Linked DNA regions of Homo sapiens. The protein of the gene in region 1 interacts with the protein of each later gene in a pairwise test. Each region holds a gene or a part of one and is shown on either strand. Other genes may lie near its edges. The genes, in order: ZNF655, GUCD1, HPCAL1 and FADS2.

Evidence for each region.
Region 2: the proteins of ZNF655 (region 1) and GUCD1 interact in binary tests that used the Homo sapiens proteins (3 or more experiments, as listed by UniProt).
Region 3: the proteins of ZNF655 (region 1) and HPCAL1 interact in binary tests that used the Homo sapiens proteins (3 or more experiments, as listed by UniProt).
Region 4: the proteins of ZNF655 (region 1) and FADS2 interact in binary tests that used the Homo sapiens proteins (3 or more experiments, as listed by UniProt).

Annotation. Positions count from the first base shown.
Region 1 is NC_000007.14:99,553,703-99,561,643, forward strand, and holds the start of ZNF655 (zinc finger protein 655), read left to right. Parts: upstream 1-4,939; 5' UTR 4,940-5,085; intron 5,086-5,122; exon of another isoform or gene 5,123-5,319; intron 5,320-6,830; 5' UTR 6,831-6,857; coding exon 6,858-6,993; intron 6,994-7,941. UniProt on the Homo sapiens protein: Probable transcription factor.
Region 2 is NC_000022.11:24,539,916-24,545,143, reverse strand, and holds the end of GUCD1 (protein GUCD1), read left to right. Parts: intron 1-1,060; coding exon 1,061-1,302; intron 1,303-2,043; coding exon of another isoform or gene 2,044-2,046; coding exon 2,047-2,138; 3' UTR 2,139-4,706; downstream 4,707-5,228.
Region 3 is NC_000002.12:10,299,039-10,305,903, forward strand, and holds the start of HPCAL1 (hippocalcin-like protein 1), read left to right. Parts: upstream 1-3,865; 5' UTR 3,866-4,139; intron 4,140-4,661; exon of another isoform or gene 4,662-4,904; intron 4,905-6,865. UniProt on the Homo sapiens protein: May be involved in the calcium-dependent regulation of rhodopsin phosphorylation.
Region 4 is NC_000011.10:61,859,283-61,866,309, reverse strand, and holds part of FADS2 (acyl-CoA 6-desaturase), read right to left. Parts: intron 3,339-7,027; coding exon 3,241-3,338; intron 3,029-3,240; coding exon 2,932-3,028; intron 2,604-2,931; coding exon 2,524-2,603; intron 1,159-2,523; coding exon 1,033-1,158; intron 673-1,032; coding exon 621-672; 3' UTR 1-620. UniProt on the Homo sapiens protein: Involved in the biosynthesis of highly unsaturated fatty acids (HUFA) from the essential polyunsaturated fatty acids (PUFA) linoleic acid (LA) (18:2n-6) and alpha-linolenic acid (ALA) (18:3n-3) precursors, acting as a fatty acyl-coenzyme A (CoA) desaturase that introduces a cis double bond at carbon 6 of the fatty acyl chain.

The DNA.
Region 1 (7,941 bases):
ATATATCCATTTTGGCCCAATGCATTTCAGCGCATATACCATATTCTGAAGAACTGCTCCCAACTTTGCAAGGCATTACATCTTAATCGCAATTTAGCCCAGTCTTCAACAGGCCATTCCAAAACCCTATCTGGCTAGCTGCTTCTGGATGATGAGTATGCACCATGAATTTTGTAGCTTCGAGTTCACTGTCACACCTCCTTGGCTATCGGTGGGTTCCTTAGTTTCAGGTATGTCAATGGATAAGGCACCCTGTAAGCTCTCAGATGGTGGTGCTGCTGGAGGCAAAGTAGTTGGGGAAGACAAGCTCATTTAGAGCATATATCAATTCTGGTAAGAACAAATTGATGCCCATTCCAAGGTAAAAGGGATCTGATGCACTCAACCTGGTGGTAGCTGGTATCTCTAAGACTCAGTGTTGGTCTCTAATGCTGGCAGGCTGGACACTCCACCATGGTGAGAGTTACATCAGCCTTGGTAAGAGGTAGACCATATTGGCCGGGCACGGTGGCTCACACCTGTAATGTCAGCACTTTGGGAGGCTGAGGTGGGTGGATCACAAGTTCAGGAGTTCGAGACCAGCCTGAGCAACATGGTGAAACACCGTCTCAACTAAAAATACAGAAATTACCTGGGTACGGTGGTGTGTGCCTGTAGTCCCAGCTACTCGGGAGGCTGAGGCAGGAGAATTGCTTGAACCTGGGAGGTGGAGGCTGCAGTGAGCTGAGATCACACCACTGCACTCCAGCCTGGGCAACAGGGCGAGACTCCGTCTCAAAAAAAAAAAAAAAAAAAAAAGAAAAATAAGAGGTAGCCCATATTGTTGGGACCACGCACAGCCTCTATCCCTGCTACCATGGTCTCTGTTCATAAGCCTATTGCATAAACAATAAGATGGTCCCTAACCAACAAGCCAAGCCATTCATCACTGCCTAGGAGTCAATGCATATCCCTACCTTAGGCTACCTCCTCCAAAATATGGCATGGGTGACCAAATGTACCATTGCTCACTGAGATAATTTTTCTTCACCAGTATGCTTCAGGGCAACGCGAGTGGGGCTGTAATGAAGAACAGTCTGTTTCTGGAAGATGCCAACATGCTGAACTGACCCAATCCCCAATCTGTGCAGAGGCCAAGGCTCTTCTGTCTCCATCAGTTAGTTGTAGGGAACTTTTATAAGGCCATAGGAGTAAGTTTATGGGAGAGGTGGCAGTAGAGCAGAGGTAACTGACCTGGGAGTTTGGAAACGTGGGTTTTGTTTTTTTGCCTTAGAAGGCATGACCTTGCTCCAGAATCTTAGGTATTTGTGCTGTGACTCTTTATGATGGGTTGAATTGTACCTCCACCTCATCCCCAATTAACAGGTTGAAGTTCTAGCCCCTAATACCTCAGAATGTGAAATTATTTGGCAATAGAGGCATTGCAGATGTAATTACTTCAAGATGAGGTCATAGTGGATTAGGGTGGGTCCCTCATCTAATGACTGGTATCCTTATAAAAAAGGGAAGTTTAGAGATAGTACACAGGGAGAATGCCAAATGAAGATGAGGGTAAAGACTGGGAAAATGCTTCTTACGATGCCAAGGAATGCAAAATATATCCAGCAAATCCCCAGAAACTAGGAGAGAGGCATGGACAGATTCCTTCTCACAGCCTCAATAGGAACCACACCTTAATTTCTGACTTCTAGCCTCCAGACTGTGAACCAACAGATTTCTGTTGTTTAAGCCACCCAGTTTGTGGTACTTTGTTATAGGAGCCCTAGCACACGAATGCACACTCTTATTGGGGTTTGCCAGCAACTCCATACAGCACCTGTATCCATCAAGGATATTTCTGGAACCACTGAATTTGCAAGTAAGCTTGCACTGTTGCTTGGATTTACTATAGAGTGCTCTCTTGCCCCAATAAAAAGTGGAAGCTGGCCAGGCATGGTGGCTCACGTCTGTAATCCCAGCACTTTGGGAGGCGGAGGTGGGTGGATTGCTTGAGGTCAGGAGTTCAAGATCAGCCTGGCTAACATGGTGAAACCCCTCCACTACTAAAATACAAAAATGCTGGGCATGGTGGCGGGCGCCTGTAATCCCAGCTACTAGGGAGGCTGAGGCAGGAGAATTGCTTGAATCCAGAAAGCAGAGGTTGCAGTGAGCCGAGATCACGGCACTGTACTCCAGCCTGGGCTACAGAGCAAGACTCCGTGTCAAGAAAAAAAAATAGTAATAAATAAAAAGTGGAAGCTTTTTAGGTCACCTAATACATGTGTTGGAACAGTTTTCTCAGGTGCAGAATATGCTACCTCCCAAATCCAAAGGGGCCCACCAGGACCTGTACCAATTTTTTTGGGATTAGAGGGTGCAAGGTGGAACAACTTTCTTTTACCTTTGGGTGATGTCCCCAAACCACTGGGCCCCACCAAAACTTCATCCATTTGATAAGTGCCCATATCTTCAGGTTTCTGTACTGCCTTAGTAAGAAGTCTTACTAGGATATTTATGACCCTTGTCACTTGCTGCTCACTGGGTACTACTAGCATTTGTCATCAATATATGGACCATCATGATGGTTGGGTAAAGTTCCTGCGGACTACACTGTGACAGAGAACAGGTCTCAGGATCCCACCCTCTCCCTGTATGAGCCACGACTTTGACTCAGGGGACCTGCCGAGTCTGCACAATTGGTCTCCTTTACATTACTGTCACTGTTACAAACAGATCCTCGGCCTAATTTTCAGCTTAGCTAGATGCAGAATTACCTTAGTAATTTATAAAAAATCAGCTATTGTATGTATCTAGATCTATTTCTGGACTTTTTTTTCTTTAAGAAATTCAACCTCATATTTCTGGACTTTCTGTTCTGCTCTGTTGATCTATTTGTCTCTATGCTGATACCATACCATCCTGATTACTGTACCTTTAGGAAAAAAATCTTAAAAAAATACAAGTATTCCAATTTTATTCTTTTTCAAAATTGTTTTGGCAATCCTAAATCCTTAGCATTTCTATATAAACTTTAGAATCAGTTTGTTAATTTGCACTAAAAAAAACAAAACAGGCTCGGTGCAGTGGCTCACGCCTGTAATCCCAGCACTTTGGGAGGCCAAGACGGGCGGATCACCCGAGGTCAGGAGTTTGAGACCAGCCTGGCCAACATGGTGAAACCCCATCTCTACTAAAAATACAAAAATTAGCTAGGTGTGGTGGTGCCCACCTGTAATCCCATCTACTCTGGAGGCTGAGGCAGGGAAAATGCTTGAACCTGGGAGCTGGAGGTTGCAGTGAGCTGAGATCGCGCCACTGCACTCCAGCCTGGGCGACAGAGCAAGACTCTGTCTCAACAACAACAAAAAGACAAAAACGAAAAAAGGTAACAATTTTTTGAGTTGTTTCCACCTCTGTCATCTGGCAAACTGTTAAAAGAAAATTTTGCTCAAAAGCAAAATAGCAGCTGCTGTTTCTTAACACTTTGTTATGTTTTGATGAGTACTGGTGGGAAGTGGCCTCTTTAAGTGGGTACCTTTTGTGGTCCTCTCACTGGAGCCAATTGCCTGAGTCAGCTAAAACTTGGACGCGATGTGCCTCACTGCCATAGCTCACTCACCTTTGCTGCTGAAATGGTTTCCCATCACATTGCTAATAGGTACAACCTGTGAAGGGTTCTAGGTGGGGAAATGGCAACTCAGGAAGAACTCCAAACCTTTAGCTCTCCTAGGATATTAAAATGGCCGTTATGAAGAGGAAGAAGTACTGTGTCATCTATTGTCCTGGGGACCTGTCAACAGGAACAATAGATAGACATCACCAGGGGTGTATTTCTGTTCAACACAAGGAAAAGTTTCTAATTGGAGCTGTCCAGCATGAAATGGACTAAGCAGTGCATTTTCTTTCTCCGATCCTGACTCCACTGTGACGGGCACTGCAGACTAGAGAGATTGTGTCCTAGTATGAATTTAGGTTGGATAAATGATACTTAGGGATAAAGAGAGGAAAGGAATATCAGAATCTCCAAGAAGCTGATACATTTTGAAAAAATATATAAAATGCCACACTTCAGGTTTTCTTGTGTTTAATTTGAAACGTCCAGTAACATTAAAGAACAGCATTTGATTTGCTTAAACAAAGTAGTAACAGCTGAAGTTCCTTCCAAATCACTTTTCTGATTCTCTAAGAGGCTTGCCTATGCCTTGCAGATCTAGCTTCACCTACAAGACATATTCTGTAAGGATCCAGGTTCAGCAAGGTGTCAGAATGTCCTAAGGGTTTCTGTCCCGGCGCTCTGCCTGTCCCGCTTGTGCACAATGCTTTTGCCTATCCCTGTTTCTGCATAGATTTTAGTCTTCCCACCAGGGACGCAACTGTCAGTTTCCTCCGTCTCTCTCGGTTCTATTCCAATCTGCTCATCTCCCCTCCCGTCCCCGCTTTCCCCAAGGACCTACTGAGATTTCGATCCCACAACTTAGTGGGTCCCATCTCACCCAGGCCCCGCAATCCTCGCCTTCTACTTGTCAGCGTTGTACTACACTCTGAGCAGGCACCCCTGTGCTACTCACGGAAGCGGGACCATTAGGTCGGCCATTCCTCCTCACCCCACGACACGCACCCACTGGGTCGGGCCGCCTCCTTGCAGGGAGTCTCAAGGATGGGCTGGCGTCAGGGAGGGGCCCAGGGGGCGCTTTCCCAACACTGGTCGCAGTCATTGTTGGTATAACGGCTAGAGACGCCCAGTGAGTTAGCATGGAGGGCAGTGGGACCGGAAAAAGACGTGGAAAAGCTGCGAAAACGAGCCTTCGAATCATGGACGCGCGGGCCCAGCTCCTCCTCCGAGTTCCTCATCCGGGGCCGTCACTCACATCCGGGGCCCTCACTCACATCCGGGACCCTCATCCGGGGCTCTCACCCACATCCGGGACCCTCATGCCTGGGCGGAGGAGGGGGGGCCCTCATTCGGGACCCTGCACTCCGTCGCCGGAAGTGCCACCGAGAAGCGCCGGCCTCGGGGCTGTCTACAGCGGCCCGGGAGAGGCTGTGGTGGCCCCGAGCGCGAGTGTGTAGGTGACAGGACAGCGGCCAGGCCCGCCCCTCCCCTCGGTGAGTACCCGGAAGCCGTTTTGGGGTCGCAGCGGGGTGGCAGCTTGTTTTGCCTTCACGGGAGTAGAAGGAGGCGGCGTCCGGCCGCGGCCGACGGTAGTTCGCTTCCCCGAGAGTGCGCGGAGGCCCGGGTGCGAGGAGGGCCTGTTTCTCTTCAGCCCTGGTTCATTCACCTCGCGGACCGAGGGCCCCGCCGTCAGGAGCCGGCGACCGTGCCCTGGTGCGAGCTGGTCTGTATGTCCTCACTGGTCCTTTTGGGACTTTGCCTTGGCCTAAAAGGGAAGTGGGAGGAGGGCAGCGCCGGGCAAGGCCTTCTGAGGACCGAGCTGGGAGCCGGGCAGGGGCCCAGGGCGAGGGTGGTGGGAGGGGGACGGCACCCTCATGCGTCCTTGGGCCTGAAGGACGCCGCTCAAACCTGTTCGAACCGCAGCTCTTACCTGCGTTGCTCTCAGGATTCCGGGAAAAGGCCGGTCTAGCTGGTCTGAGTTAGCGAAGGGCCTGACCCCAAAAGTGGAGTTTTATTCGCCAAGCCCGTGTAGTAAATCGGAGTGGGCTGACGGTGTTACCAAGACATTTCCTAGGGGGCCTGCTGTTTTATTTATTTAAATGAGTTTATTTACGTAAACGCGGGCCTGTCACGGTGGTTCACGCCGTAATCCCCGCACTTTGGGAGGCCGAAGTGGGAGGATCGCTTGAGGCCAGGCGTTCGAGTCCAGCCTGGGCAACATAGCGAGACTCCCATCTCTGCTAAAACAAAATTAAAATAAAATGAGCAATCATAACTAGCATTTTTCTCTGGGCACCAACTTGAGCCTCCAAAGACGATTGTAAATTTTAAATATTTTGTTTTGTTTATTTGAGGTGGGCTGTCACGCTGTCATACAGGCTGGAATGCAGTGGCGCAGTCATAGCTCACTGCAGCCTCTACCTCCCAAGCTCAAGCGATTCTCCTGCCTTGGCCTTTGGAGTAGCTGGAACTACAGGCCTGGGCCACCTAATTTTTTTTTTTTTTTTTTTTTTTGTAGGGACGGGGTTTCACCATGTTGTCCAGGACGGTCTGGAACTCCTGAGCTTAAGGGATCCACCCGTCTGTGCCTCCCAAACTGTTGGGATTACAGGCTTGAGCCACCGCACGTGGCCAATTTTAAATATTTTAAAGTTTCCACAGAAAGCTTTACACTATTAAATTGTACCGTGTTAATTTTTTTAATGCCACAAATTCCAAATTAGAGACTCTTCTATGATTTGGTTCTTAAGTATTTAAAGCTGAAGCATATCCATATTTCTTTTTCTTTTTTTTCTTTTTTTTTTTTTTGGGACGGAGTCTCACTGTGTTGCCCAGGTTGGAGTGCAGTGGTGCAATCTTGGCTCACTGCCACGTATGCCTTCTGTATTCAAGCAATTCTCCTGCCTCAGCCTCCCGAATAGCTGGGATTACAGACCCGCACCACCACGCTGGCTAATTTTTGTATTTTTAGTAGAGAAGAAGTTGCACCATGTTGATCAGGCTGGTCTTGAACTCCTGACCTCAAGTGATCTTCCCGCCTCAGCCTCCCAAAGTGCTGGGATTACAGGCCACTGCGCCTGGCCCCATTTTTCTGTTACTTATTTAGGGTGGTTAATCATTATCAACTAATTTTTATTGAATATCCATAGTGTGTAAGATCCTTTGCAAAGTCCTGACGATATAAAATGATGAAATGCTTTAACTTATTACAGTAATTTCTCTTAATCTTACCTTGCAGTGATGGTCATTGTCCTCCAGAGCAGTGATGGAGGAAATACCAGCCCAGGAAGCAGCAGGGTCACCAAGGGTCCAGTTTCAGTCTTTGGAGACCCAGTCTGAGTGTCTGTCCCCAGAGCCTCAGTTTGTGCAGGACACCGACATGGAACAGGGACTCACTGGGGGTAAGGCAGAGAAAGCACTTCCGTCTGGGAGAGTGGGAGTGCGGAGGGGCTCCCGAGGGGGCTCCTGGGCCTGGTTTGAGAGAGGCCAAGAACTGGAATAAGAACATGGTCCCTAGAGGGAGGAATGAAAGAGGGGGCAGATGTGACTCAGTTCAGTCCTAGTCTGAGCCCCTTTATTAAGGATAGCTCATCTTTCTCAAATAAGCAGAGTGATGGCTGCTTACTCGCTGTGGTGGTTTTTCCTTCAGGCAACCTTCACTTCATCCCAGTTCTCACATCCAGAATAATTTCTAAGATATGCTGCTTTTGCCACATCTCACAGTCCTTTCCTGGCTCTCACTTCCTCTTAGGTTCAGGACCTTTCTTTCCCCTGTTCCCTTCACTTAGTTTTTCTTTGCTTTGTCACCTGCCATCCATTCTGTTGTAACTGCAGTGTTTTGTGACTAGACTAAATTTGGTCAAGGAAGCAACCATTTAATTCCTTGGTTGAACACAATGCCTGTATGAATGTATATATACTGTATTTTGACTACGCAGTCACACTTTGCTGTATCGTATAGGTAGGTTGGTCTTTTTCTTCCTTTGTTTTATAAGAGCTGTGTCTTAGATTGCCTGTGGTTAACTCTAGTGCCTGAAATAACTTGTGTGTCACCCACACAGATCAAGTGCCACAATGTGTAGAGTGCTGTGGGGGATTGTGGGACTGTGGAAAAGATTTCGAGGAAACAGATGACCCTTTCTTGTTCTTGGGGGCCTTACACACTGGTTGAGACAGCACCCATTCACAAGAGAAACGCTGATCAAGTGTCTAGAACAGTGCCTGGAAAGGGTCAGAAGTCTGCTAAATAACCCTAGCCCAGGACAAGTCCCCACAAGTCTTTATGCTTTGCTTTGCCCATCTGCAAAACAGGTATAGTCTTACTCTTCTGTAAGAGGACTGTCATGTGA
Region 2 (5,228 bases), on another chromosome or scaffold:
GGGTGAGCAGCCCCTCCAGCAAAGATGCAGGAGCCCCTGGCCTAGAGCTCCCCCTGCCCACAGCCCCATCTGCCCTCTGTCCCTCTGGGTGTTTTCTTTTCTTTTCTTTTTTTTTTTTTTAAGAGACAGGGTCTTAATCTGTCATACAGGCTGTAGTGCTGTGGCGCAATATTGCAATACAGCTCACTGCTACAGCCCCAGGCTTAAGTGATCTTCTTGCCTCAGTCTCCCGAGTAGCTGGAACCACAATCTCATACCACCACGCCCCACGCCTGGTAAATTTTTAAATGTTTTTGTAAAGACAGGGTACTGCTGTGTTGCCCAGGCTGGTCTCTAATTCCTAGTCTCAAGCGATCCTTCCGCTTTGGCCTCCCAAAGCACTGGGATTACAGGTGTGAGCCACTGTGCCCAGCCCTGCTCTAGGTTTTCATTTGGATTTGCTGCCTAGTGGAAGGCACAGGATGGGGCAGTGCCTTCTGCCAGTGAGGGAGGCTCCAGGTAGATGTCATTGCTGAACTGGAGCTCCCCTGGAAGCAATGTGGCCCAGCCCTTCCTGGGCAGCCCCTTCTGCCACCAGGAGCCTTAGAAAAAAAGTAAAATAGCTCTTTCAGAGAAGCATTTGGTTTTGAAAGTGTCTGAGCCATGCTTGGCTGGCAGTTTTCAATGTAAACCACACATGATTTAGGGTAGAGGAGAGACAGGGCTGGGCAAAAAGAATTCACTAACCAGGCTGGGGTGCAGTAGGAGGATGGTTTCTGTGTGCTGCTCTAGTGGCCCTTGACTGGACCCACCTGGAGCTGAATGCTCTCCCCGTGAAGGGCCTGACAGAGCCAGCTCATCTTTGTGCACATTCAGACACACACACACACCCCCCCCACCGGTCTCCTGCTTGGCTCTAGGCTGAGCCTGGGCCACAGTGACAGAGCAGGGAGTTCAGGGCAAAGGGAAAAGGAGCCGATCCCCAAGCTTTGTAACAGAGAAACAGGCACAAGCAGGGATCCATTTGAGGGATGGGGAATGGGGGCCCAGCAGCACCAGCTGACCCCCCTCCCGCCCACAGCACAGTGAGTGTGAAGGACATCCAGGCGCACCTGGCTCAGGGCCATGTGGCCATCGTGCTGGTGAACTCGGGGGTGCTGCACTGTGACCTGTGCTCCAGCCCTGTCAAGTACTGCTGCTTCACCCCCAGTGGCCACCACTGCTTCTGCCGCACTCCTGACTACCAGGGCCACTTCATCGTGCTGCGTGGCTACAACCGGGCCACTGGCTGCATCTTCTACAACAACCCAGCCTATGCCGACCGTGAGTGCTGGGTGGGGTGGGTGAGGCAGAGTGGTCCACATTCACTGTTCTGTATGCCCAGTGCCCACAGTTCCCACCCATTCAATCTAGTGTGGCCAGGGCCTCCCTCCCTACCTTTTCCCCAAAGCCCCTGCTCCTCCTGGGCTCTTGTCACTGTGGCCACCCCTCAGGCCATGCAGGCAAACCTGCCGCAAACTGTGCCAGCCTCCTCTACACCCTGGCCACCCCTCCCTCTCACACCACAGGCCCCACGCCACTGCCCAGGTCCCTGCCTTACCCTTTCATGCTGCCCAGGCTGCACCCCTCCCCCAACCACCAGGATGGCCGGCACATTCCTCAGAAAGAAAAGCCCGGCCAGACCCAGCCCCTGCTCTAGACCCATCCTGGCCTGCCTACTGCCCTCCGGGCACAGGGAAGGGCTGCCCTGACTCTCATAGACTGGATTCACATAGACAGCCCCTGGACGCCCTGACCACATAGACTTACCCCGTCTATGTGGCCTGGAGCACGTTTCTGCCCCTCTCTGGGCCTTTCTCCAACTGCTTTACTGGGGAGGAGTCAGAGAAACCTCATGAAGACCAGGATGGGCAAGGAGGGCTTCCTGGGGGTGGAGGACTTGAGTTGAGAGGAATGGCCATGTGGATGGGAAACAGACCTCACTCAGCTCCCCTGGGCACTGTGTCGGTGGTGTAGGTGCTCTCTCACAACCCACTGACCCCGTTCTGCCTTCCCCACCCCCAGCAGGAATGTGCAGCACCAGCATCAGTAACTTTGAGGAGGCCAGAACCAGCTATGGCACAGATGAGGACATCCTCTTTGTCTACTTGGACAGCTGACAGCAGGAGCCTGGTGCGCCTAGGCCCTCGGACCCCATCCCCACCCCAGCCGGGCCCGCTCAGGATGCCCTGGCCCAGGCTTGGGGCTGCTGGGGTTGGAATGTGGAACTGCAGCCTCAGCCCATCTGGCAGAGTCCCAGGAACTCGGAGACTGGCACAGCTGCTTTGTCTGCCAGTGCCGTGTGTTGTCATGTCACTCACCCCAAGCACCTGCTGGCTGCTGGAAGCATACCCCAAGACCCCAAGCCTTGACTCCAGCTGCGCCCACAGGAAGTCCAGTCCCGACAGTGCCCTTGTTGCCTTTGAGCCAGATCCATGGCAATGGTCTCCCCACAGACCGCAGGACTGAGCCTGGAGAGAGAAGTTGCTTGACGGATGCCACTTGTCAGGACAGTATGTGAGTGTCTGGAGACAGCATAGCTGACCCCAATCCCCCAGGGCTGAGGACCCCTCCAGGCCCCTCTCTCCTGGAAGTGCTGCATATGCCCCTGTGCCCAGTGGTTGATGATACCACCACCACCTGCCTACCCATGGGCCCAAGTTTCTGTGGCTCATTACAGGGCATCTGACCCCTGCCACCCAGCATAGACACACCTCACAGCTGCCCTGCCATGCAGAGCCCTGGCCGCTGGAGACTCTTAAAGCCCCCACAGCCCTCCAGGTCCTCCAGCTCTGTCAGATGGAGGGCTCTCGGGCCTAGATCCCACTGGTAGGCCTCGTGGCTGGCAGCAGTGCTCTGGGAATAAACAGCTGCCCTAGCCCCAGAGGGATCCCTGCACCCAGGAGGCCTCCTGACACCAGCCAAAATCCTGACAGCAGGGTCTGCCCTCTTGAGTGTGGGGAGCCCCTAGTCCTTTAAGGTTGGCTGCTAAGGCCTGTGCTCCAAAGCAACGGGCTGGGGCAGCCTGCAGCTGCCCACCCAACCTGGTCTTCACACCAGATTGCACAGGATACTGGGTCTTGTCTATCTTGATGGAGAAGAGGGGTTCCTGCCCAGGATCTTACAACACAGCAAGTAGCATAGAGCTCTTTCCTTCCTCTTTTTTGGGGAGGTTGGGGTCAGGGGTTGTTTCTTTGAGATTTAAGTTTTCATTTTTGAGGGGTAATCACCTTCAAGTAAAACAGTAATAGCAAGAGTGAAGGTACTTTGGAACCACTAACACCTCTGCACAGGGCAGTTAGCCAGCTCAAGTTCTTTTTCAGAGAAAGGGACTTGGCCAGTGGTTTAAGTACCTGCCCCTTCACCTCTCAGACGAGGCAGCTGACGAGGCAGCTGGCCCAGTCTTGGGAGTCTGCTCAGGACAGTGGTGGAGCTGGGTCTTGAACCCCAGTCTGCACCTAAAAAACTAAAGGAAATGGATTTTTTTTTTTTTTTTTGAGACGGAGACTCACTCTGTTGCCCAGACTGGAGTGCAGTGGCACGATCTTGGCTTACTACAACCTCCGCCTCCTGGGTTCAAGCGATCCTCCTGCCTCAGCCCCCCACTAGCTGGGACTACAGGCACATGCCACCATGCCCGGCTAATTTTTTTGTATTTTTAGTAGAGACCAGGCTTCGCCATGTTGGCCAGGCTGGTCTCGAACCCCTGAGCTCAGGTGATCCACCTGCCTCGGCCTCCCAAAGTGGGAAATGGGTCATTTTCAAAGGGGCAACAGTGATACCATCCCTGCACTCCTGGGTCCTGCTCTTCCAATGCCCAAGGCATGGCATGGTGGCAGCTGTGCCCCCGCCCATTGCTTTGGAGCACAGATGACTCTGGGGGCAGAGGTGGGCTCTGTTTAGGAGGGCAGTGAGACCACCCAGCCAAATTGCTTCTCAACCCTAGACAAAGCCTTTGGCCAAGAGGGAGGTGCTGTTAGTTGGGCAGCCCTTCTGGGTTTCAGAGACCGGTGTTGGCTCTAGACTGGTCTCATCTCCATTGCCTTAATGCCAGGTGGCCCAGGAGTACCCATGCACAGCAGCTGTGGGGTGTGGGCATCTTCAGGTGGTGTTCTGGTAAAATTGTTAGAATAGCTGTATGAAGGAAACCAGTGGGAGGAAATGAAGTTTTCAGGATGGTGGGATGTGATTTAGACAGTGCACATGCTGTTAGGGCTGTCACTAGGGAGTGGCCTTCATGGAGGGTGGTAACAGCACCTCAGTCCAGCCAAAATGTTTAGAAACACTCAGTCTCTGGTCCCAGAGGATGGCTTCTCAGGGCATGCCACAAGTTAAAGGTCACCTTCCTGAAAGATGAATGAGAAAGCTGCCCATTCTCAAGACTCATCTGCCTAGGGAGGGTCACAGAGGCAGGATGTAAGACACACTGTGTTGCATTCTTGCACAAGTCATGAAAATGGAGCCAGAGAGCCTGGACATCAGGGACTTTTGCCCACAGCACATGACACCGACAGCTGCCCAGCCTGTTCACATGCTGGGGACCAGCACAGCACCTGAAGCCATGTGGGACAGTTGGGCTTTGTTCATTCTAGCCACGGGGATGAAAGGGATCTTTTGCATTGCAGAGATTTTATATATATTTTGTTTGTAATGAGCCATTCTCAATAAACATTATTCTCACTGCAAAATGGTGGTAGCCCCTGGCTGGCCTTTATGAAGCTGTGTTGATCTGCAGAATTCCTGTCCCTTCTCAAGTTCTCAGCATGAGCACATGGGAACCCAGGTCCTTGTCTTGCCATACCCAGTTTAGCTGGGACTGGAATCCTGTTTTCTGTTTTCTAGGGCCATATCCATCCCGTTCAGGCCTGGATGCTTGTGCCTGTCCTGGACAGGCAGTACTAGAGGTAGAAGGGCCTCGGGGCTCAGCTCAAGTGAACTGCAACAAATGCAACTACAGGAGACACAACAGAATGAGGGAGATGTTGAAGCAGGAGAGACGAAAGTGGGTGGGATGGTGAGTGCTGGGTGGAGCTGGCTGCTCAGAGCATGCAGAGTTGGGGTTGAGGTAGACAGACCAAGAGTGCAGTAGTGCGATCTCGGCTCACTCCAACCTCCACCTCCTGGGTTGAAGCAATTCTCCTGCCTCAGTCTCCTGAGTAGCTGGGATTACAGGCACACACGACCACGCCCGGCTAATTTTTGTATTCTTA
Region 3 (6,865 bases), on another chromosome or scaffold:
AAGGGTGCCATGATCACTTAATGGCAAAAGGACAGCTTTTTCAACAAATGGTGCTGGGAAAACTGGATATCTACATGCAAAAGAATGAAGCTGGACCCTTACCTAACACCATATACAAAAATTAACTCAAAATAGATCAAAGACCTAAAAGTAACCTAAAACTATAGAATTTTTAGAAGAAAACTTGGAGCAAAATCTCCACAATGTTGGATTTGGCAGTGATTTCTTGGATATGACATTAAAGACACAGACAACACAGAAAAATAGACAAATTGGATTTCATAAAAATTTGGTGCATCAAAAAGCAAAATCGGGCTGGTGCGGTGTCTCACGCCTGTAATCCCAGCACTTTGGGAGGCTGCGGTGGGAAGATCACTTGAGGTCAGGAGTTGGAGGCCAGCCTGGCCAACATGGTGAAACCCCGTCTCTACTAAAAATACAAAAATTAGCCAGACCTGGTGGCGCACGCCTGTAGTTCCACCTACTCGGGAGGCTGAGGCAGGAGAATGGCGTGAACCCACGAGGCAGAGCTTGCAGTGAGCCGAGATCACACCACTGCACTCCAGCCTGGGTGACAGAGCAAGACTCCGTCTCAAAAACAACAACAACAACAACAACAACAACAACAACAACAACAACAACAAAGTGCTGGCGGTGAGGATGTGAAGAAATTGGAACCCTGTGCACTGTTTGGCAGAATGTAGAATGGTACACTGTGGAAAGTATTATTATGATGCTTCTTCAAAAAATTAAAAATAGAATGACCACATAATCCAGCAATTCCACTTCTGGGTATATACCCAAAACAACTGAAAATAAGATCTTGAAAAGATATTTGTGCACCCATGTTCGTCGCAGCATTATTCATAATTGCTAAAATGTGGATGCAACCCAATGATTTCTTGACAAACGAGTGGGTAAACACAATGTGGTATACACACACATGGAAATATTACTCAGCCTTAAAAAGGAAGGAAATTTGGACATACACTACATCATAGATGAATCTTGAGGACATTATGCTAAGTGAAATAATCCAGTTGCAAAAAGGAAATACTGTATGATTCCACTTATGTAAGGTATTAGAGAGGTAGTCATTATTTAATGGGTATAGAGTTTCAGTTTTACAAGATGAAAAGAGTTCTGGAGATGGATGGTGGTGCTGGTTGCACATCATTAATGTATTTAATACCACTGAGCTGTTCACTTTAAAAGGATTAAGATGATAAATTTTATGTTATGTGTATATTATAATAAAAGTTAGAAAAAAATTGTCATAAAACTAAGTCAGATATTAAGAACAATCAGAATTACTTCTGTCTTGTTTACAGTCATCATATGAAAAACAAATTGTTTATCTAGCATGACACCTGTTATGGGTTGAATTGTTTCCCTCAAAAGATGCTGAACTTCTAACCCTTGGTACCTGTGAATGTGACCTTATTTGGAAATTGGGTCTGCACAGATGATCAAGTTAAGATGAGGTCATTAGGGTGTGCCCTAATCCAATAATGACTGTGTCCTTATGAAAAGGGAAAAGAGACAGGTATATAGAGAAGATGTGAATTCACAGGGAGCGCACATGGCCATCCATAAGCCAAGGAATGCATGAGGTTACCAGAAGCTAAGAGACAGACATGAAACAAACTGCCCCCCACATCTCTCCAAAGGGGCCAGCCCTGCCAACACTTTGATCTTGGACTTCCAGCCTCCAGAGCTACAAAACAACACATTTCTGTTGTTTAAGTTGCCCAGTTGGAGGTGCTTGTTACATTAGCCCCAGGAAATTATACAACATCTTACCTGAATTTGCTTTCTTCTTTGCTCTAGTTAAATTCAAAACTACATATTGAATAACGACGGTGTGCTCTCTCTCCATGAAGCTTCGGGGTGGGTAGACAGTCCTCCTCTTGAAGGAACAGGAGGGACGCAAGGGAAGGGACCAACTTGTATCTCATCTGAGAGAGATACACTCCTGGAATAAGAGGTCTGCGGTTAAGTGTGTTTCTCTAGAAGTTCAGAAACAGAGGAAGCATCTGCGGGCTAAGCTGCTGAGGGCTAGGTGAGAGCTAACTGACCTAAGTTTTGAAGGATGGATGGGTGACAGGTTGGAGGGGGAAGATGGAAAAGTCACATGGGAGAGGAACAGCATGGGCCAAGTGTGGAGGAACCAGTGAGTGGGCTGGGTTTCAGAAACAGGCCTTGGTCTGCTTTTGAGCCCTCCCTGAACTTTTCCACCCCAACCCCACCTCCTGCCTGTGTCTGCCATGCACCTCCCTTCCTGTGAGTCTGTGGACAGACTTTGCCCCTTTGCCCTGTGTGTGCTTGGGAGAAATCTGCTCAGTTTCTGTGGCAGGGATGTTTCTACGTGTTCATCAAACCGGCTTTGTTTACTTCCGAAACACTCATGAAGACCACAGCTGCCAGAGCCCCTTGCATCCTGGTGGGACTGTGCGACTACTTCTGGCCCATGGATGTGGGTGGAAGTGACGTGTGCTTCCCCAGGCCTGGCTCCTGGACCCCACCGACGGCTTCTCACCTGTAACCCCACCAGCCTTCTACCTGGATACTTCACGGGGAGCTAGAGTGGCCTTGGCTAAGAAGGAGGCATGGCACCCGCGGGTACCGGGCCGCCTTCATCAGTCGGTGCACTCTGGTCCACCGCCCACATGCCTTCATGTAATCTTCACTGTAGGGCCCACAGGGAGGGGAACTTCCTCGAGGTCTAGCTTTGCCTTTCCGCCTTCAGAGCCAAGTAAGAATGAGGGGTCTGGGCTCGGCCCACCTTCCCTGCAAGGCCCTGTGCCCGCTCCCCTCAAAGCTGGTCTTGCATGTTGCTCTGGCGGCCTCTGTAGCAGGAGTTCACTCTGTTTTCCGTGGAGGAGGAGTGGAAGGAGGGATTCAAGCTCTCCCCTAGAGACGCTAGAAAGACAGTTTTGTCTCAGCCTCATACGATCGCCCAGCTCCACATTTCTGGCTGTTTCTGTGGTTACCTTTCTTCGGGGATGTTTGGGGCGGGAGGTGGGTGTGTGTGTATATTTGCTCTTCTGAAGCCGTTTTTCCGGAGCTCCTGGTGGGGGTGGGGGTGCTCTGTCCCTGGTTCCTCTCGAGGCAGGTGCAGGGGATGGAGGATGCCCCCCTCCCCGAGAGCCAGGAGGCGCCGACCCTGGGCAGGAGGTGCCAGACCGGCGCCTCTCCCGCGTGGAGCTCGAAGACCACAGATGCCTGGAAGGGAGGAGCACCTTCCGTGGTTAGGTGGGGAAACCGAGGCAGAGGCGGCCCAATGGACTCGCCTAAACGGCCTGGGGAGTCACTGCAGGTAACCAGAGCTGGAGCCAGGCTTCCCACTCCAGGCCCGGGGCTCTCCCCCGAACAGGCGTGGGAAGGGGTGCGAGCTGCACGCGGGGCTGGGGCTGGGGGTGCGGGGCTGGGGCAACTCGGCTCTTCCCCTTCCTAGGCCGCCCGGGCCACTTCCTGCGGCGTGGGGGCGGGGGGCGCGGGCGCAGGGCTGGCCCCTCCCGGGCGCCGCCTCTCGGCCTCTTCTATACCAGCAGGCCAGAGGCCAAGGGTTAGGGGAACAGAACCGGTGCCCGGCTCCGCCCCTGTCCCGAAAGCCACTGGGGGCTGGGACCCGGCAGGGCCAGGTTTGGGCCGCGAGGGCCGAGGAGCAGCGAGGTGCAGGGGCTGCGAGGGCCGAGCCGGGCGCTGAGGGTCCGGCAGGGGGCGTGGAGGGGGCGGGGCCCGGAGGGGGCGGGGCCGTAGGAAACTTGAGCGCCCGCCTCTGGCCGCGCGCCCCGCCCCGGCCCCCGCCTCCGGGTCCCGCCTCCAGGTCCCGCCTTCGCGTCCCTTCCTTCCCGGAGCTGGCAGGCGGGCCGCGGCGGCGGCGGGCAGCGGACGGGCGGACTGACGGGCGCCTCCACCTTGCTCCCTCCCTGGCTGCCGGCTTCCTTTTGTCTTTCTGGGCGGCGATGAGCGCAGGGCCGGCGCAGCAGCTGCGGGCGCACGGAGGCCCGCGCTGCTAGTCACTCCTCCCGGCCTCGGCGCGCTTGTCCCGGGCAGCGGCCCGGGCCCGCTGCAGCCGCCGCCGGCGCCGAACTTGGGCTCGGGAAGCCGGCGGACCGCGTCCTGCGCCGGAGCAGGTAGGGAAGGGGCGGGCTGCGGTCTGCTGGCTGCTGAAGTGTGCCCCGGGCGTGTGCACCCGGCGTGTGCACCGGCGAGCGCTGCGATCCGGCTCTTTGCGTGTGTGTTGTGCGCGCGTGTGTGTGTCCGGGAGTGCCCGCGTTTCTCTGCGCGGTGGAGTTGTGGGTGACTGCGGACGGTGGTGTGTCTTTCGAATGGCGTGTACTCGTGGGCATCCATGTGTGCCTTAGGTGTGCACATTTTGGACTGCGTTTGTGGAATTGTGTGTCGGGGCGCAGTTGCTGGTGGGGAGCGGTGCCTGGCGGGTGTCGTGTGTGAGCAGCTGTGCGCAGAGCGGGGTGGCGGGGTGGGTGTGGGTGGTCCAGCCCCACGCCCAGAGCCCCCTGTCCCTGCTGGTCGGCGCAGTGCGTAGCTTAGGAGCCTCGAGGACAGCTGGGACCCGACGGGCAAGGGCGGGCCTCGCGGGCAGGCTGGGCAGCCCTCAGGGAACAGGTCCGTGCGGCCCACGTGGGTCGCCTGTGAGCTTCTGCCAAGGGTGGGGGCCCACGCGGAGGCGATCCGCTCGTTCCTCCCAGGGCCATGGGGCGACGAGGAGAGCCCTGGCCTCCCCGCGACCCGCACTGCGACCTGGGCCAGACGCGCCACCTTCCCCGGTCGCGGTTTGCTTCTCTTTAAAATGAGGACAGCTCCTCCCTTGGGGGCTGTGGTGACAGGTGAAATGAGAACGCACTGAAGACAGCTCTTGGTCCAAAGCCCCGCACACAGTAGGTACTGTGTTAATTGGATTAGCGTCTCCTGTTTAAAATCCTTTTTTTTTCCCCTTTATCGTGGGTGGGGCCTTACATTTTCCCCGGGCGTGTTTTGTGCCTCTCCCTGGCCCTAACTTAACCGCGAAGCACTGAGATTCGAGAAAGTTTAGCTGCCAGCTGCGCTGCCTCCTGCAGCACCTCCCGGGCGGCGCCGCCTCCGCGAGTGCCCGAGAGCGCCGCGCTGGGCGCCGGCCCTGCCCCAGCCCCCAGGCTCCCGCGCAAGCGTGGGGGTCCCTCTCCTGGCCGGGAGGCAGCGACTGCGGAGTTGAGAACCCTTTGGTTCAACAAGTTCCTAGTCCGGGAGGATGCAGCTCAGCTCGTGGAGTCCGAGAGTCACGGCGTAAAATTGGCGCTTCCCGCACATGCAGATCTCGGGCTCCCGGGGTGTCCCGGCCGCCAAAGGCCACCCCTTTCCTCCTGGCTGACCCCAATTCCACCAGAGGAGGATGTTTGCCAGGGACGCCGAGTCCAGCTGCTGGCCTCGGCATTAGACAACCCCCAGCCCCAGCCCCTGCCATCCCTGCTCCCTTGCAGCCAGCCTCATGCCGGGGGTGCCACATGGGACACCTCCTCCTAGTCCCACACCTTAATTTAAAACATTTACTTTTGAAACCTACTAGTCGTAAAATTGAACCGCAGTGAACGAGCACCCAGCTCTTACCACGACTCACTCTCTGGAGAGTTCTGGCGCCTCGGCGCTGGCTCGGACGCAGCAAGGCCAGCTCTAGGGGTCGGGTGGCTCTCGGCCAGAGCGAAGGATATTCTTTCCCTTCATCGCCTTGGTGTCTTTCTCTGGGGGAAAAAAATCGCCTTTAACCAAGGGAGCCAAGATCTCACCAGTGCAGGAGGCTCTCAAAATGGAGCGCCGGCATGGGGTTGGGCTGCGGAGGGGACAGCATGGGCGGCCTTTTGGTATGGATGCGCTTCCCAACTGTCAGGGGCTACGTGATGGTGTTCCCAGAGAGGCGGGCTGCTTTGCGGGCTTTTAGGAGCCAGGGATAGAAACCTGGTCCGGTTCCTTTGGTTTCCCTCGGCCGAGACTGAAGCCCTGCAATCCTAGCCATGGCAGGCCAGGGGGATGCGATGAACTCATTTTCTCATTTTTCATCCTGACTTAGTGACAGGGGCACACTTAGAATGCACCCTGTTTTCTGTTTCATCAAATGATTTTATGTCCTACAAGAAAAAAGGGCTTTTGGTGTGAATCCTACTCTTTCCTCATAATCAGGTTCCATAATAATATTAAAAAAAAAATCAGTCTGGCTTTCTCAGCTCAGAAGACAGACCCAAACCCAGGTTTGTGTTTTGTTTTGTTTTTGTTTTTTTCTAGTTAAAGCCAGCCCTTTGTCTCAAGCAAGCCAGTGTTTTGGCCTTAGATCTATTTCTGTTTCACTTTTGAAAGTGCCTGTAATTACTGAGCTCTTGAGGTTTTATTGGATAATGTGGCAAAGGGAAGGCCCGGGGGCCCTGCCTCTCCCTTGCGGTGGGATGTGGTGCCACGGTGGCACATTCTAGCCTTGCCTGCTCCCTCTGCGTCCCACTTTCATGCTGTTTTTAAGGTGGAACAGAAATGTCAATGTGTGATAACAATTTGGGAGACTTTGTCTTTGGAATCCAATAAATGGAAGGTCCTTTGATCTGTGGAGAAACCAGAACAAGTCAAAACCCCAGAAGAACAGAGATTTGCCCAAACTCCAGCCAATGACCCATTTATTTCCAACAAGCCCTCCTAGAGATAGATTCTAAGTGAAATACAAGAACGTGGACACACTCCGTCCCCTTTCTGGCCACAGGGCTGTGCAGAATTAGAAGTGCAGTCTATGGAAGGACAAGGACTGGACTTCGCTTGGTGCAAACGCCCCAGCCAGGCGCCCCATACTCACCTAGCACCATTTCACCCTGGAGCTGTTTCCTCC
Region 4 (7,027 bases), on another chromosome or scaffold:
GCTGTGCCCGCGGGCCTGGGGCCCTGGACATCTTAAGAGAGGCCTCGGGTACTTAACCGAGCTGCAGGAGGGAGACCCGAGCTTTGTAACAAAGCAGGCCTCTCTATGAAAGGGTGGACCAATGGCAGCCGTCAGGGAGAGTGAAGCCAGGCCGGGAGGGTCAGGGGCCCTGCCCGACTAGGACCTGCCCCTATGAACCCCAAGAGCATCTGAAGAACCAAAGCGGGGGTGATGCCTAGTGACCAGGCTGCAAGGGGAGACTCACAGGCCAGACCCATGGACCGCTGGTCTCCTCCCATCTTTAGGGGCAGAGAGTGGAGGTAGGACAGAGCCACCCCCGGTGGCCACCTCTCTGCTCCTTGGAAGAAGGGGCTAGGAGGCACTGGGAGGGCCATGGCTGATGGCTGACGGCTGAGGGAGGGCAGGTCCCATGAGGGCAGGGTGCTATGGGGGAGATGTGAAGAGAAAAAGGAGAGGAGAAAGGGAGAAAGATCCAACATGGGGTCCGTGAGCAGTGCATACACCAGCCTCTCGGACACCCCTCAGAACAAAAGCCCATCATTCCTCTGGCCATCACCCCACCTGCACCCCTTCCCCACGGTGTCCCGGGGGCTGTGGCTTCATTTGTGAAGGTAGGCGTCCAGCCACAGCTTCCCAGACTTCTTCAGGGACCTGCAAAGTTGGGGATGGACCAGGGTCAGGGACCAGGACGGGAGTGGCCCCAGGGAGTGCAAGGGCTGAGGAGGCCATCATTAAGGTGGCATGTATGTCCCCTTGGCCCTAACCAGGGCTTACCACTGCCACTGGGCCTGTGGGGCTGTCAGCTCAGAGCCCACCAGGAACCCCACACAGAAAGGGATGGTCTTCTCGCAGCCCAGGGAGAAAAGCCCAACAGCTCCTAACACAGGCTCGGGAGTAAGGCAGGTGCCCTGGTGGGTGACTGTGCCAGGAGGGCCCAGCCCCTCTTGTGATCCCACTGTCTGCACCACGGGTGATCCCAGGGCCCAGCGCCTGTGGACCTCCACCCCTCACCTGATGATGTCCAGCAGGGCCCTCAGTAGCGGCTTCTCCTGGTATTCAATGCCATGCTTGGCACATAGAGACTTCACCAGCGGGGCGATCTTGTGTAAGTTGTGCCGGGGCATGGTGGGGAAGAGGCTGAGGAGTGTGTAGGGTGGGCAGAGCGTGAGGACTCAGAGGGCCATGCTGCTCCCGCTTCCTCCCACCACCTGGGCAGAGGCTGGCTGGGGCCCTCAGAGACCCTGTCCACAGCCAGGACCAGTCTCAAAGTGTGGCTCCTCGTGTGTGCCCAGTGGGGTGCCACGTGTGTGGAGGGGAGGGTGCAGCCCTCCGTGAGCAGGAGGGCGTTTGTGCTCTATGGAGCTGGGAAGATATTGGGTGGCCAGAGACAAAGTGTCATGTTTTTCAAAAAAGAAATGAAATAGCTGGGGAATGCTAGGAAAAGAGGCAGTGAGGTGAGGCACGGTGGCTCACGCCTGTAATCCCAGCATTTTGGGAGGCCGAGGCAGGCAGATCACTTGAGGCCAGAAGTTTGAGATCAGCCTGGGCGACACGGCAAGACCTCTTCTCTACAAAAAATAAAAATAAAAAATTAGGCCAGGTGCAGTGGCTCACACCTGTAATCCCAGCACTTTGGGAGGCCAACGCAGGTGGATCACTTGAGGCTAGGAGTTTGAGACCAGCCTGGCCAACATGGTGAAACCCCGTCTCCACTAAAAAATACAAAAATTAGCTGGGCGTGGTGGCACACGCCTGTAATCCCAGCTACGTGGGAGGCTGAGGCCTGAGAATTGCTTGAACCTGGTAGGTGGAGGATGCAGTGAGCCGAGATTGCGCCACTGCCCTCCAGTCTGGGCAACAGAGTGAGATTCTGTCTCAAAATAAATAAATAAATAAAAGTAAAAAAAAAAAGAAAAAATTAGTTGGGCATGGTGGCACGCACCTGCAGTCCCAGCTACTCAGGAGGCTGAGGTGGGAGGATGACTTTAGCTCAGGCGTTCGAGGCTGCAGTGAGCCAAGAAAGCACCACTGCACTCCAGCCCAGGAAACAGGGTGAGACTCTGTCTCTACATTTTTTATTTTTTAATAAAAAAAAAAAAAAACAGTGACAAGAGGTGAAGCAAGGACAAGGGGCAGCAGGGCAGTCCCTCGGCCGATGTTCCAGGCAAGCTACGTAGCCCTGCCCTGCTAGCCTCACAGGGTCATGAGGTGCGTGTGCAGGCTCCATAACTACAAAGTCCCAGGCCCACATGGAGGGAGGTGGTAACCACTATGACCAAGTGGCACAGCATGAGGGGCACAGGATGACCCTCAGGGAGATGGAATAGGGGAGCCCCTCTCCTGACCTCAGCGGGGCTGGCTGGGAGCCTTGCTCTATATTGGGCAGAGACCTTGTCAGAGAGACAAAGAGGTGGCCCCCACATTCTGCATTCTGCCCAGTGGGATAGCGGCCACTTCCCTCCCGCTGTGGGTCTCCCCGCCTCCCCGCAGCCCCGCGCTCACTGGTGCTCAATCTGGAAGTTAAGGTGTCCACTGAACCAGTCGTTGAAGAAGGACTGCTCCACGTTGCAGGTGGCTGTCAGCTGTCAGTGGAGGGGATGAGTGTCAGGGAACAAAGGAAGGCCCAAGGGCCCGGCCTCATTCCCAGGGGGCCCAGCCTTACCCAGGGTCTCCAGGCCACCCGTCCACATCATACCGTCCTGCCTGATGGCCTCAGCCCACCCAGATGCCCCACCTGTCCCTCTGGGGGATTCCTGCTGCCCTTTCTTGCTCAGCCCTGAAGCTCCCAGCAAAAGGACACAGGCAGCCCCGGGAGGCCCAGCACAGCCCTGTGTTAGCAGGTGCAGATCATCTGGGGCCAGGACATGGACATTGGGACCAGGCTCTGGTGACCGGCCCTGACTTCCCTACCTGGCTACTGAACCAGTCACGGTAGGCCTCCTGGTCAATCTCCATGACGATGTGATTCATCTGTGTGACCCACACAAACCAGTGGCTCTCCAGGAACCTGCAAGAGAACACAGCTCAGCGCAGGGGCCTCCGGGGGCCCAGCCACAGTGGGAACAGATCCACTCTCCCAACCAGCCCAGGACAGCCCCTGCCAAGGGGCCAGGATGGGAGGTCCCCAGGCAAAGTGGAGCCGTCCGAGCCTCTTCTCATGCCAAAGCCATCATCAGTGCCAGTGGAGGGCCCAGGGATGAATCAGCAAAGCCCAGGCACCTGATGAAGTTGAGGAAAAGGAGGGCTCCCAGGATGCCGTAGAAAGGGATGTAGGTGATGAAGAACCGGATGTAGTAGCTGACGGCCCAGGCCAGGTCCTGCGGGGAAAGATGAAGTTAGGTGCAACCTGCCCTCTCCTCTGCCCTGGCACCAAGTGCGTGCCCCAGATGTGCACACACCTCACACTCAGGCCTCTAGAAGCTGGACCGCAGCCCACTGAAATGCAATGGGCAACTACACGCCACCTGCTTGCTCGGGGTTTGCATGGCTGCCTTTGTTTCTAGGGAAATGCTGAGTGTTTTAGCATCAGGAAGTGACTGTGCCCTGTTTTTCGGGAGAGAAACGGACCCTCCTGCTGAGGGGCAGCCATGGGGTAGGGGTGGGGGTCAGCAGCCCTCTCGTGGGGCAAGGGCGATTCTGAAGGTGCGCCCCCAACCCGGGGCCAGGTCCCCAACCGTCCCCCAGTCCTGTCCCTCCTCCTCAGCACCTGGGTCTCCTCCTGGCATCTCCTTCCAGCAGGACAGAGGGCTTGGAGGGGTAGGGAAGGTCAGAGGTACCATCGTCCCTATCTCAGAGCTCTCACAGCAGAGGCTGGCCTCCCCACGCCCCACTGTCATCCTGTGTCCCTCCACTCTGCTCTCCTCCCTGCCTCTGGCTGGACTGGTGTCAGGGACTGGGCTTGGACGTCTTCTCTCATGTACTGGGAGGGTGACTTCACGGCTCCACCCTGTCCACTGTCTCTCTGCCACCCAAGTCTTGTCTCAACTGGACCACAGCATCAGCTTCCCACAGTCTCCTGCTTGTCCTCGTGGCCATGGCAACCAGAGTGGCCTTCGCTCCAAGCAGGTCCCAACTCTCCCCTGCTAAAGCCCCCATCCCACCCAGTCACCCACGGAGCCTCATGGGGTTAAGAACCTGTCTTTACTCAGCCCCCTGACCTAGCTTACTCCCTCCCCGGGGCCTCTGCATGGCCTGTTCCCACTGCCAGGGCGCTCATCCTGCCATGAGTTTAGGTATGGTGACATGCCACAGGCTCAGCACAGGTGTCCGAGGTGGAAGGTGAGGCCAAGGGACTGCCCTGTCTCACTTCAAACGACTGAAGAACAAGGTCACATTTGTGTCTTAAAATAGATCCCCACCCACTGGAGAGGGGGAGACTAGGAAGTTATTCCAGCGGCTCAGACATGAAATGACAGAGGCCTAAACCAGAACCCACGGCACTGACAAGGAGGTGACAGATTCCAGAACTGTCAGAGGCAACGGTGGCTGCATTTGTGCCTGCTTGGCTGTGGGGAATCTAGGCTGGTCCTAGGTGATCAGGGGTCGGGTGCCAGCAGCTGAACAGGAAAGGAGGAAGGGAGCGCTCAGGAGAGGCTGGAGATGGCCTTGGGGCCAACATTGGCCGAGGGCAGGACCTCACGTTCCAATAAGGTGGCCTTCAAGGTGAGGAGGGAGGCAGATGTAGCCAGTTCTGCTCCCACTTTCCATCACATTCCTTCTATTCTGTGTGTGTGGTGCAATAGTGTGCAGTGTATCTACACATATATGGAAACAAAATGAGGATGGGGTTACGGATTATTTTTTTTTGGAGATGGGATCTTGCTTTATTGCCCAGGCTGGAGTGCAATGGTGTGATCATGACTCTGTCCCAGGCTCAAGCCATACTTCTACCTCAGCCTCCCGAGTAGCTAATTTCTGTTTTTTTTTTTTTTTTTTGAGAGGGAGTCTCGCTCTGTCGCCCAGGCTAGAGTGCAGTGGTGTGATCTTGGCTCACTGCAAGCTCCACCTCCTGGGTTCATACCATTCTCCTGCCTCAGCCTCCCAAGTAGCTGGGTCTACAGGTGCCCGCCACCACGCCCGGATAATTTTTTGTATTTTTAGTGGAGATGGGGTTTCACCGTGTTCGCCAGGATGGTCTCGATCTCCTGACCTTGTGATCCGCCTGCCTCAGGCTCCCAAAGTGCTGGTATTACAGGCATGAGCCACTGTGTCTGGCCTTACCTGGATAATTTTTTTTAAGTTTTTATAGAGATGGGGGGGTCTCACTTACTTGCCCAGGCTGGTCTCGAATGCCTGTGCTCAAGTGATCCTCCAGCCTTGGCCTCCCAAAGTACTAGGATTACAGGTGTGAACCATTGCCCTGGCCCAACTTTTATTTTTAAGAGACAGGGTCTCACTCTGTTGCCCAGGCTTGAGTGCAGTGGTGTGATCACAGCTCACTGCAGCCTCAAACTCCTGGGCTCAAGCCATCCTCCTACCTCAGCCTCCAAAGTAGGTAGATTACAGGCGCGCATCACCACGCCCAGCTTTTTGTAGAGACAGGGTTTCGCCCATGTTGCTCAGGCTGGTCTCAAAACTCCTGGCTTCAGGTGATCCCTCCCACCTCAGCCTCCCAAAGTGCTGAGATCACAGGCGTGAGCCACCATGCCTGGCCTGGACTTCTTTTGAGTGTAGAGAGCAACACATACACAGAGATCGCTGGTTTCAGGGGCAGAGAGCCCAAGAGATCAGAAGCAGCCAAAGAGGCGGAGCGAGGGGGTTGGGAAGAAGCCAGCAGAGGTGGGGACCTGGAAGCCAACAGGAAGAACTGCAAGAGGGAGTGGCCAGTGGTGTCAGATACAGCAAAATTCCAGGAGGGTGAAGCGTGGGAGCATCTCAGGATCCAGGACGTGGCCCCGGGAACAGGGAACCTTGCCAGAGCATGTAAATCTCCCCGGGAAGCCTCCTTCAAAGATCTTAGGGTTTGTCACCTCTTTCCTCTAAGCCAGGGTCCCCCAACCTCCACACTATTGGCACCTGGGACAGGCTGCTTGTTGTCATGGGCGGTTCTCCAGGGCATGGCAGGGTGCTAAGCACCATCCTGGCTAGACGCCCACCAGATGCCAGTAGCACCCTCCTCTCCTGAAGTTGTGACAATTAAAAGTGTCTCCGGATACTGCCAAAGGGCAGAACAGCTCCCCTGAGAACCAGTGCCCCAGGTCATAGGTGCGCTCCTGGCTCTGAAAGCCCCATGGGCTCATCACATTGTCCCCACTCTGCCATCCCCTTTTAGGAACATAGGGTGATTTCTTTTCCTGTTTAATACTTTGTTCCTTAGGGAACAAGCACAGTCAAAAACAAACAAAAAAAAGAAGTTGCTCACTGCAAGCTCCGCCTCCCGGGTTCAAGCAATTCTCCTGCCTCAGCCTCCTGAGTAGCTGGGACTACAGGTGCACACCACCATGCCAGGCTAATTTTTTGTATTTTTAGTAGAGACGGGGTTTCACCATGCTGGCCAGGCTGGTCTCGAACTCCTGACCTCATGATCTGCCCGCCTCGGCCTCTCAAAGTGCTGGGATAACAAGCATGAGTGACTGCGCCCGGCAATAGGCCACTTATGAGTTAGAACGGGATTGGATGCTAGAGGCAAGGAGAGGGTGTAACATGTATAAGGAGGGAAAAAACATAATGGTGCTAGTCTCTAACTTGAGCCACTGGGTGGATGATGGAGCCATTCATTAACATGGAGACCATCAGGATTAGGTTGTGGGAGAAGAGGAGAGGACTTACATTGAATATGTTGGATTTGCAATGGCTGGGACACCTCCAAATGGAGTTAGATTGGATATATGGGTCCAAGACTTGGAGATAAAATTTGACTTGGCTGCTCTTAAATTCACAGTCAGGGTGAAAAGGACAACTTCAGTTAGCAAGCGATAAAACAGTAATCAACAGGCCGGGCGCGGTGGCTCACGCCTGTAATCCCAGCACTTTGGGAGGCTGAGGTGGGCAGATCACCTCAGGTTGG